Regions from separate parts of the Homo sapiens genome. Here region 2 is linked to region 1. The links come from fine-mapping of genetic effects on gene expression. Tissue or cell type: stomach. Region 1 holds a variant in brackets; the other region holds the start of a gene. All regions are shown on one strand. Distances are between the middles of the regions. Region 1 has its middle 82 kb from the start of PLCZ1. Region 2 holds the start of CAPZA3 (capping actin protein of muscle Z-line subunit alpha 3).

Region 1 (5,384 bases):
TTAGATTCTATTGTAGTAAATACCTAAGCTAAAGTATAGCATTCTCTCCCTTTTTACTCTCTGTGAAATAGAATATGTAAAACCTTCTAAAAGAATTTATATGCATAACTCAAGCCATCTATTCCAAATACTTAAAGTTACAGGTCGGTTATGTATATATGTAAAACTGGTACTTTAATGCTATTATTTATTAAAATATTGATTTTCTATTAAAAAATTCTCCTTTATTTTTCAAAAATAGTTTTTATCAAATATAGATCTCTTGGTTGATGGTCTTTTCTTTTAGCTCTTTGAATATTTCATATGTCTGGCCTCCATGGTCTGTGGTAACAATCAGCCATTAATCTTATTGAGGATTTCTTGTGCATAATGACTTGCTTCTCTCCTGCTGCTTTTACGATTCTTTATCTTTTGCTTTTGACAGTTTGATTATAGCGTGTCTCATTGTGAATCTTGTTATGTTTATCCTACTTAGAGTTTGTTGAGCCTCTTGGATGTAATTCATCAAGTGAATTGATGTTTTGGACCATTATTTCTTTAAATATTCTTTCTGTCCTTTTATCTTTTTATCTCTCTTATCTTCTGGGATGCCTAATATGCAAATGTTAATATACTTGGTGGTATTTCATAGGTCTCTTAGGATCTGTTGATTTTTCTTTATTCCTTTTGTTCCTCAGATTAGGAAATCTCAATGAACTTACTTTCAAGTTTGCTAATTCTTCCCTCTGTCTGCTCAAGTGTACTGCTGAACTTCTTTTGTGAATTTTTCATTTCAGTTGTTATAATTTTTTAATCCAGAATTTTTTTTTGGTTACTTCATAATATGTCTCTTTATTGAAGTTTTCTATTTGAAGTGATATTATTCTAGTGGTTCTCTTCAGTTCTTTGTATGTGGTTTCCTTAAGAGCTTTAAGCATATTTAAATAGTTAATTTAAAGTCTGTCTAGTAAGTCCAATAGATGAGCTTCCTTAGGGATAATTTCTATTACTTTCCTTTTTTTTCTGTGTATGGGCCATACTTTCTTATTATTTGCACACTTCACAATTTTTTGTTGAAGACTGAACATTTTGAATATTATAGTGTGGCAACTCTAGAAATCAGATTCACTTTCTTCCTTGGGGGTTTGTTGTTGCTGCTTATTATAGTAGTTGTTTGTTTAGTGCCTTCTCTGAACTGATTTTTTAAAGTATGTATTCATTGTTGTATCTAGATTCTCTTTTCGGTTAGCTTAGTGGTGTTCAGCTAATGATTTTACAGAGATTTCTTTAAACTACTGGAGCCGAAAACAACAACAAAAAATTAGAAATCTTTCAGCCTTTGCATATGGGCTCTATGTGAATGTTGAGGCATGCCTTCAACACTTCAGCTTGTAAGCTTACTACTCTGCTATAGTCTTCATTTGTGCTTTCATAGAGCCTGAGGGTCAGCCAGTGACAAGAGCTCTGGATCTTCTCAGGTATTTTCTGAATATGATCCCATCCCTGGGCACATATATGGTCATCTAAATCCCAGGTATTTGTGGAAACTTTTCAGAGCCCTTATTCCCCAAAACATCTCATTTCCCAGTCTTTCGCCCCCAGGTTTTTCAGTTAGTAAATTGTTTGTTCCAACTCTATTATTCCTTGTCCCCAGCAGCAGTGGCAAATACATCTGCCTATAAATATTTCAAACAAATTCTCCCTGGGTAGTCACCTCAGCACTGGTAGAGATTTGAGTTCGTTAAAATAAAGACAAACCCTTTGGGCTTGTTTTTTTGGGATCACTAGCCAAGTCAAAACAACCACAATTCTTTGTGGTCAGAATGAGATCTATTTTACTCTCTGTCATATTAGGACCCTATACAAAAAATGTGAGCTGCTGTCATTAGGGCTGCCTTAAAAAGTTGAGCTGGGAGCAGGAGATGGGGCCAAAGTAACTTTAACACCACATCTCTCTTACTGAAATTTAACTCTCTTTTCTTGATTAAGCATTCATTTTGTTGTTGCAAAATTTGATTGGTTTCAATTGTTCTAATAAAGTTGATTCTGACCGTTTCTGCCTGTATAATTGTGTTTTTGTTGTTGTTGTCGTTGTTGTTGCTGTTGTTTGAGACAGGGTCATGCTCTGTCACCCAGGCTGGAGTGCAGTGGCATGATCATAGCTCACTGCTAACTTGAACTCCTGCCTCAAGCAATCCTTCCACCTGAGCTTCCCAAGTAGCTGGGACACCAGGTGCATGTAACCATGCCTGGCTATTTTATTTTATTTTACTTTTTTCAGGACAGAGTCTCGCTCTGTCGCCCAGGCTGGAGTCCAGTGGTGTGATCTTGTCTCACTGCAACCTCCTTCTCCTGGGTTCAAGCAATTCTCTGCCTCAGCCTTCCAAGTAGCTGGGATTACAGGCGCCCGCCACCATGCCCAGCTAATTTTTGTATTTTTAGTAGAGACCATCTTGGCCAGGCTGGTCTTGAACTACTGAGCTCGTGATCCACCCGCCTCAGCCTCCTAAAGTGCTGGGATTACAGGCGTGACCCACTGCGCCCAGCCACCTGGCTAATATTTTTTAATGCTTTTTTGGTATAGACAGGGTCTTGCTATGTTGCCCAGGTTGGTCTCAAACTCCTGAGCTCAAATGATGCTTCCGTCTCAACTTCACAAAGTGCTGGGATTACAGGTGTGAGCCACTGTGCCCAGCATATTTGCTGTTTTTGTGGAAGAATGGAACTTTAGACTTCCCTACTTCACCATTTTTGCTGGTGTCACTCTCCTTTACTAGTATTAACAACTTATATTAGAATTTGTCACAATTGATGAACCAATATTGATATATTGTTATTAGCTAAAGTCCACTT[T/C]AATTAAAATTTACTTACTTTTTACCTAATTCAAATTTACTTAGTTTTTCCGTTTCAGGATCCCATCCAGGGTACCACATTACATAGAGTAGTCATGTCTCCTGAAGCTCCTCTTGGCTGTGACAGTTTCTCAGGCATTCTTTGCTTTTTATGATGTTGACAGTTTCAGGAGTACTAGTCAAGTATTTGGTAGAATGTTGTCAATTGGGATTTGTCAGTTCTGATTTTTTTTTTTTTTTTCATGATAAGGTTGGGGCTGTGAGTTTTTGGGAGGAAAACCTCAGAGGTAAAGTGCCACTTTCATCACATCTTGTCAAGGGTACATACTGCCAACACGACTTCCACTGTTGATATTGACCTTCACTACCTGCCTGAGGCAGTATTTGTCAGGGTTTCTCTACTATAAAGTTAATCCCCCAATCCTCTTTTCCATATTATATTCTTCAGGATGACGTCACTATGCATAGCTCATATGTAAGGAATGGGTAGCTATGTTCTACCTTTTATCAGGTGCAACATCTCCATAAATAATTAGGAATTCTGCGTGGATTTTGTTTCTTTCTCCCTACTTATTTATTTATTCATTTATAGCAGTGTGGATTCGTGGATAACTATTTTATACTTCAGGCTATAATTTAATGTTACTTACCCAACTTGTCCCAGCTTTGGCCATTGGGAACTCTTTCAGTTGGCTCCTGTGTCTTTGGGAATATTTTTTTCCTTCAGCTGGAGGACCACTGGAAGCAGGTTCTTTACCTGAAGCTGCAGTTGATGTTTCTGATACATTAGAGTCTAGTGATGATTAATATTTTCACCGTATGATCTCCAAAACCCTTTCTCTTCTTAGCTTTTAAATTTCACAAGTCTTTAACAGTATTTTCCTGTTATGGTCTTTTTCTCAACAAGAAACATCAAAAGCCTCTGGTATTTTTTTTTATTATTGTTTCTGTATACTTTTAAGACTGTTTCGGCTGGGTTTATAACTTTTTATTCAGCTTCTTATATGGGTCTGTTTACTTCTTTATTTCACATAGGGATAACATTGTTTCCCAGAACTAAGTGTCTTTTTTCTTTTTCCTTTCCCTTCACTCTCTGACCAAAACATTTGTTTTTCCAACTTTCCACTCTCAAAATTTTATCTTGAGAATGTCCCACATTAAGAGAGATGAAGTCGGTGAGTTCGATGTTTGTCACTTATCCCTTGTTCAAACAAGTCTTGATTATCTTGATCCTTATGAGTAGGAAAGTCCCATGTAAAAGATAATCTTATCAGACCAAGAGCTGATCCAGACCAAGTACTCAACTGGAATCATCTTGTCTGATTTCCCTTTAATAAGTCCTCTCTTTGCTTTACTTTTACCTGGAATAACAGTTCCACAAATTTTCCAAATATTTTTCCTCAGGGAACACCCGTGGCAATAATTTTGCTCATTTGCAGTTGACACAGATGCGTTTTCATCCTTTATACTGATTTTCCTGGGATTTCGGTCTGAAATCGGACCACATTTTCTTAACCACTTGAAAGATCTATTCCAGTTTTGAAGGAAAAGGTGATTTGATTGTTCTTACAATAATGCTGATACTTTAAGAGGAGTTTTAAAAAGCAAGTGTGATTCTTAGTCTTTCCAGGAAATCATTATATCTGCTCTCCAAGGCTTTTCCTTTTCTTATCTGATAGATTTTTTTTTTTTTTTTTAGGTACTAGTGTTTCTTTTGGAAATGGCAATAACTAAAATGTATTGCTCTTTTCTATTACCTTCTTCAAGAGAAGTTGGACCTGAGTATATTGACTTTTTAACTTTATAGTTATCTCTTCCAGCTACTAGCATTTCATTTCCCCTTCATATCTGCCCAGTCTGTGTTTTGAGATCCCAATATTTCTTTTAAGGCAGTATCTTTCTCATTACTACTCAGTTTGACACATTCTATTTTATTTTCCTTCTTCTGCTACCATTGCTCTGATAGTAAGAAACTATCAGAAAATGAGGCTCTTTTTTAAGCTACTCAAGTTATTTCTTGATTCTTGGGGTAAATCGGAATCATGGAGCCAGAAGGCTGACAGGTATAGTCCTTTAAATTGCTTTCTGAATTTTGGGGCATGCAATAATCTCAGTCACTTATTTCTGAACCTCAGCCTAGGAAGAGGGCATTTTCTCTTTATACAAAGAGTTCCTATATTTTATTTTAAATGTTAATAAAATCCACTTCCCTCCTATAATTGCAGCTGTAGTTTGAATCTCCAAACTCTAATAATGAGTGTCTTTCCTTTAATTATTAAACTCAGAGTCTACTTAACACCATGTGGTTGAGGTGACTTAAGTATATAAACATACCACTTGAATTCGTTTGGTTTTGTCTCCTCCAGTGCTCTGTCACCCTAAAACCACTTCAAAATAGCATGCACACATACAAAGGAACACAATTTGGTGAAGTTTAGGTAACAGTCAGGTATACCTGTGTCTGGAGTTAAGAATTTTAAGCTACAAATTTACTAGAGCTTGTAACACATTTTGAATTCAGTCACTGTTCAAATATCAGGCCTAGCAGGTGAG
Region 2 (5,384 bases), 82 kb before region 1:
GAACTGTTGTACCCTGAAGCATGAGCACTAAGTCAGATACACTTGTCACTATGTGGTACGGTCTGATTGTTTGTGTCCCTCAAAATTTATATGTTGAAACTGAGTCCCCGAGGTGATGGTATTAGGAGGTGAGGACTTTGGGAGGTGATTGGCCATGAGAGTGGAGCCCTCATAAACGATATTAGTGCCATTAATAGAAGTTCTACAGAGCTGCTTTGCCCCTTTTACCATGTAAGGTCACAGTCAGAAAGTCCTATCTATGAGGAAACACACCTTTACTAGGCACTAAATCTGCTAGCAACTTGGTCTTGGACTTCACAGCCTCCATAACTGCGACCAATAAATTCCTGTTATTTGTGAGTTACTCAATATATGGTATTTTGTTATAGCAGCACAAGTGAACTGTGACACTATGTGTCTGGAAGATGTGAACAACTTGAGAACTTAGGTTTTTCTTAGGTACAACGGAGATAATACTAGTACCAGATTAGTGATGAAAAATGTTATGCAAAATATTTAGCACAAGCCATGTTATGTAATAAGTACTTCTAAGTGTTTACAGTGACGACTTCACAAAAGCCTGGCTGTAAAAGTTTGGGAAGTCAGGCTTCTCTGGTTGGCTTGGAAGACCATGTTAGTTATCAGACAAGCCAGGGATTTTGAGTAACCCCAATTCTTGAGGGGAAGAAAGTAGAGTGGAAGAGGAGCCAAAATTACTAATAGTCCTTCATCTGAGCTAGATTTTTGATATCTGTTGGTTTTGTGGAAAATCCAAACCTAATGTCTTTTATTGAAATTCCCCATCTCGTGGATGGTCTAGGACTGAATTGAGTTATGTAAAATATCATTTGTGGAGTGATATTCATTTGTATACCTTTTCAGTTCGAAACAGTCAAAAGTCTCTCTCTCTCTCTCTCTCTCTCTCTCACACACACACACACACACACACACACACACGTACACACCCACACACAGCCTTAACCCTGGCCACCTCTATACTATTTCTGGAATCCCAGATTCTATAAAACTATTTTAGTTTCTAACAAATGTCTTGGTCTTTATGATGGTCACCACCATGAAACACAGTTACTTTACACTTTCTTGCCTTGTTCATAAATATTCCCCAAGTAAAATTACTTGCTACACTTTTCCCATTTAAATTTGCATTGGCTAAGTGAGAGACATCTCTACAGATTGCTCAATTTTAGGAAAATAACCATTCCCAAGAAACACAAACAAGTCAAATCAAGATAGTTACCAGGAGCAATTCTTTATATTATCCAGTTGCACAACACACTTCTTGAATAAATGACATATCCTAATTTAGGATACATCACCAGATTCAAGTCAGAGAGTATCCTGTGCCAGTCAATAAGAGTGCGGGTCACTGGAAGATCCCTTCGTAGAATTTTTCTCAGGGCTTCATTGGATAACTCCTGTAATTCTTCCAAGACTGCAGCTTGAAATTTGTTCTCTTGCTCTTCCACAAGCCTTGCAAAACTTAGAGCCAGTTGAGCTTGGTTAACTATTTCCAAGCTTTCTTTCAGGTCCTTGGATATTTCAATATGAAGGTTGACACACCTGAAGAAGTGAGCTTGCACAAATATTCTTCCCGTTACTTGGGTTAGAAATGGGTTAACTTGGAAAATCCATTTAGATTTCCAAAGTCCGTTCCAGCACTCTCCTGTTTCATAGTTGTGATCTTCAATGCAAGCTATCAAGTACTCCTTACTTTTGACAGTTTTTCTCAGCATGTTGCAATTTCCTTTTGGATAGTGGTCATTCACATACAGTTTTAAGGCGCACAGAAGAACAACTCTCAGGTATTCTGCCTCATTCTGAATGATACCATGACTTTGGATGTCTTTCAGCTGATTTTGAAGCAGGTCATATTTGAAAGAAAGTTTGCTTTGATGGTCAAAAAATCGGTAGTCGCCCATTACATTGTGGTGAGACAAGAGTACTGGATTTCCATCGATGCAGAGTGGTACAGAATATTTTTGGCAGTGTTGGTGGCCTGCACACTCACCTTGGTGGTGCATAAGTTTTTCATCACGGATAAGCAGACAGAGATCATCAAAGGCATTTACAAATTCCCCTGGAGGGGCCTGTAATAACAGTCTGCGAATTACTCTTTCCTTGTCCTTCCTGCTCAGCACGCTAAGTGTCATGTTTGGTTGCAACAGAAGCAAAGCTTCTGAAATGAGGAGTGTTCAAAGGATAAGAAAACATTCCATGAGCCACCTTTCCCATCAAGGTGTTAACATTCAAGCTGAAGGTTTTTATGTCTATCCATGAAAGCAGGCAGTCTGGCAAGGTCTGAGCCTCCTGATGAGGTCATAAGAAGCTTTCCTTGTGAAGTGTGGAACCTCTGATGATATCACAATGGGAATTCAGACCAAAAGGAAAAAATGACAGTCACCTGACAGTGTGGTGCCCAGCCAACCAGCTATACCTCTTTTGAAGATTTTAAGAACTTAGCCTCCTGAACAGTCTTCTTCGAAAGTGGTGTGTCTCTGTGTGCATTATATGTTGTCAACGATCTAGAGAAGCAGCCCAAAGTTTCAAGAGTGACAGCACTTTGCAACTTCAGGAATCACAATGGTGTTGATTTATACTCAGGCTCTCAGAGTAGCTGCCCAAACCCACTGGAAGCATATTATGATGAAAGGTTTGAGGGGTTTAAACAAAGTAGTAAAAAATAAAAGGAGATACAATGGCAGTTCATGGAAAAATGCCAGACATCAGGGAAAGCTGTGTTTTCAAATATTGTGGGTTTGGAGGTGGTCAGAACGTAAGAAGCCAAACAGTTTCAAGGGCAGGGTAGTGCAGGTACCACATCTTGCATACTGTTTCTATGGTTAAGTGTGAGCTAGCTTCAAAGAACGAAGGCAAAAAAAACCACTGTGTGTTCTCTGCTTTCTCCCTAGAAAAGTGGTAACAGCTGATGAGTATCAAGAAATTATTTTCTGCAAAGGGGCAGAGTTAATTGTATTTGGAACCCATGACAGCACCTACTGGGGAAAGACTTCTAAGTGAGGAGAAACGGCTCTACAGGTCATGAAACTATGGAAATGAGATATCCATTGAGAGCTTCTTTCTGCTCCTCTTCTTCTTTCTCCTACTTATCCTCTTTACTTGATGCTGTTATTCTTTTCGAGGAGTTCTGAATTTAAGTCCTCTTCATTTAAGTTGAACTGCTTTTCCCTGTTTGTTCTGAGCTTTTCTAACTTTCCCTGCATTCTGGTATCTTTTTCTTACAAGAACATGAGCTTTGCTGGATTAAGTCATAACTATTAAATTTAAGGAGATCTCATTAATTCGTTCTAACAATCTGAAACTTAGTAGTTTTGCACAATTTTTACCTATACCTTTTATAATTTTAGTGATAATTGTCATTATCTCATTTCGATCTTAGTTTTTCAAATGGAAGTGTCCTAGTTTTTGTAGTTTATCTATGATAAGTAAGCTTTTAAAAATTTTTTTCGTTTTTCATACCAAATATACACTCACCATGGTATTTCTGATGCTTTTTGATGGTACTGTCTTGAGTGTGTGTGTAGCTGGGCATTGGACTAATGTAGTAATAATAACTTTATCAGTCATGGTTACTATTTATTGAACACTAAGTAGCAGAAACTGTGTTCGGTGGCATATTAGGAATTCATCTAATGCTTCCACTTTCCTTAAGATTCAGGGTTAATTTGCTCACCTTTCTGGAAGAGAGAACTAAAACAGAGAGGTCAGGTGAGAGGCGATCTTGAAGTCTAGCTGCCTTCCAACTTCATGCCTTCAGGCAATAGATTGTTATAATGTTTTAATGTATGTTCTAAGTAATGACTTCAATTCTCAAATTTTAACTTTAATTCTTTTTTTTGTATTTTTACTGTGCTATGCCCTTTCATACCTTTACCATAGCATAGTAACTACTTAATTTTGTTTTTTAAAAAATATTTATCATACAATTATACTATAATTTACTTTAAACATATTCTTTAAAAATAAAAATAATACAGTAAATCAAATGTTTCTTTAGGAATTTTAAATATTCAATGACTTTCTGTGAGAATTTCCTTAACTTTTTTGTGCTTCTACATGGTTTTTGTCAAAGATTCAGGATGACTTCAGAGGTGGAAAAATTAACCTAGAAAAAACTCAGAGGTTACTTGAAAAATTAGATATTCGGTGCAGTTATATTCATGTGAAACAGATTTTTAAGGTAAGATGACATCCACCCCCTGCCTATCCTATCCTAGGTGGAACTTAATCCAATGTCAGTAATTGTCATATAAAGGTTAGTCTCTTAAGAAGAAAAGCAATTAATTATACTAACTATATTTACAATCAAGATGGAGAGCATTTCAGTAGAAGGTAAAATTAGTTGTTGAGAAAATCTGAAATAATACCAGGATATCAGTTTAGAATAATTTCCTGAGCATACAGAAATGCTAACATTAAACCTAGGATTGGATGTCTAATTATATCAGACTGATAATGGTAACTGTATTAGATGTTAGTGATTTATAAAAAGAGTGGAGAATAAGCCCAAAGTTAGCAGAAGGGAGGAAATAATACAGATTAGCACAGAAATAACTAAAATAGAAAAGAAAAAAATTAGAAGAAATTGAGGAAACTAAGACTTGTTTTTTTGAAAAGTTAAATAAAATTGACAAATACTTAGAGTAAGAAAAAAGAGAGAGGAGTCAAATAAAATCAGAAATGAAAGTGGAGACATTACAACAGATCTCACAAAAATGAAAAACACATAGAGCAATCATACACCATAAAATTGGACAATCTAGAAAAAAAAGGGAAATTTCAAGAACCATATAACCCATCAAGACTGAACCAAGAAGAACTAGAAAGGTTAAACAGACCAATAACAAAAAGGAGACTGAGAGGCTGTGTGCAGTGATTTGTACCTGTAATCCCAATGCTTTGAGAGGCCAAGGTGGGAGGATCACTTGGGGCTAGGAGTTTGAGACCAGCCTGGGTAACATAGTGAGACCCTGTTTGGAGACTTAATCAGTAATCAAAAACTGCCCAACGAAGAAAAGCCCAGGACCAAATGACTTCACAGGTGAATTCTACCAAAGATTTAAAGAAGAATTAATACCAATCCTTCTGAAATGCTTCTAAAAAATAGAAGAGGGAACACTTCCAGTTTTATTTTATAAGGTCAACATCATCTGGATACCAAAGCTGGACAAAGGCACCACAAGAAAACAAAACTTTAGGCCAATATTCCTGATGAACATAGATGCAAAATTCCCCAACAAAATAATAGCAAATCAAATTTATAGCACTTTAAAAGGATCATATTCCATGACCAAATAATATGTGTCCCTGGCATGCAAGGATGGCTCAACATACAGAAATCAATC

The links. PIP is the estimated chance that this variant, and not a neighbour inherited with it, causes the effect.
Region 2: it holds the start of CAPZA3, and the variant in region 1 is the best candidate, but not a certain one, in a credible set for the expression of CAPZA3 in stomach (GTEx, PIP 0.74).

What each region holds. Positions count from the first base shown.
Region 1 is chr12:18,653,439-18,658,822 of GRCh38, reverse strand. It overlaps a transcript of PIK3C2G not described here and a transcript of PLCZ1 not described here. Among named protein-coding and RNA genes, the nearest start is that of PLCZ1, 82 kb to the left of the region's middle. The variant T/C (reference allele first, on the strand shown) is at 2,833.
Region 2 is chr12:18,735,056-18,740,439 of GRCh38, reverse strand. It overlaps CAPZA3 (capping actin protein of muscle Z-line subunit alpha 3), which reads right to left and starts at 2,321. Exons shown (of 1, transcript NM_033328.3): 1 at 1,252-2,321. The coding sequence starts at 2,171. The coding sequence ends at 1,272. PLCZ1 (phospholipase C zeta 1) reads left to right here and starts at 2,428. Exons shown (of 15, transcript NM_033123.4): 1 at 2,428-2,508; 2 at 2,931-3,079; 3 at 4,096-4,219. The coding sequence starts at 3,069.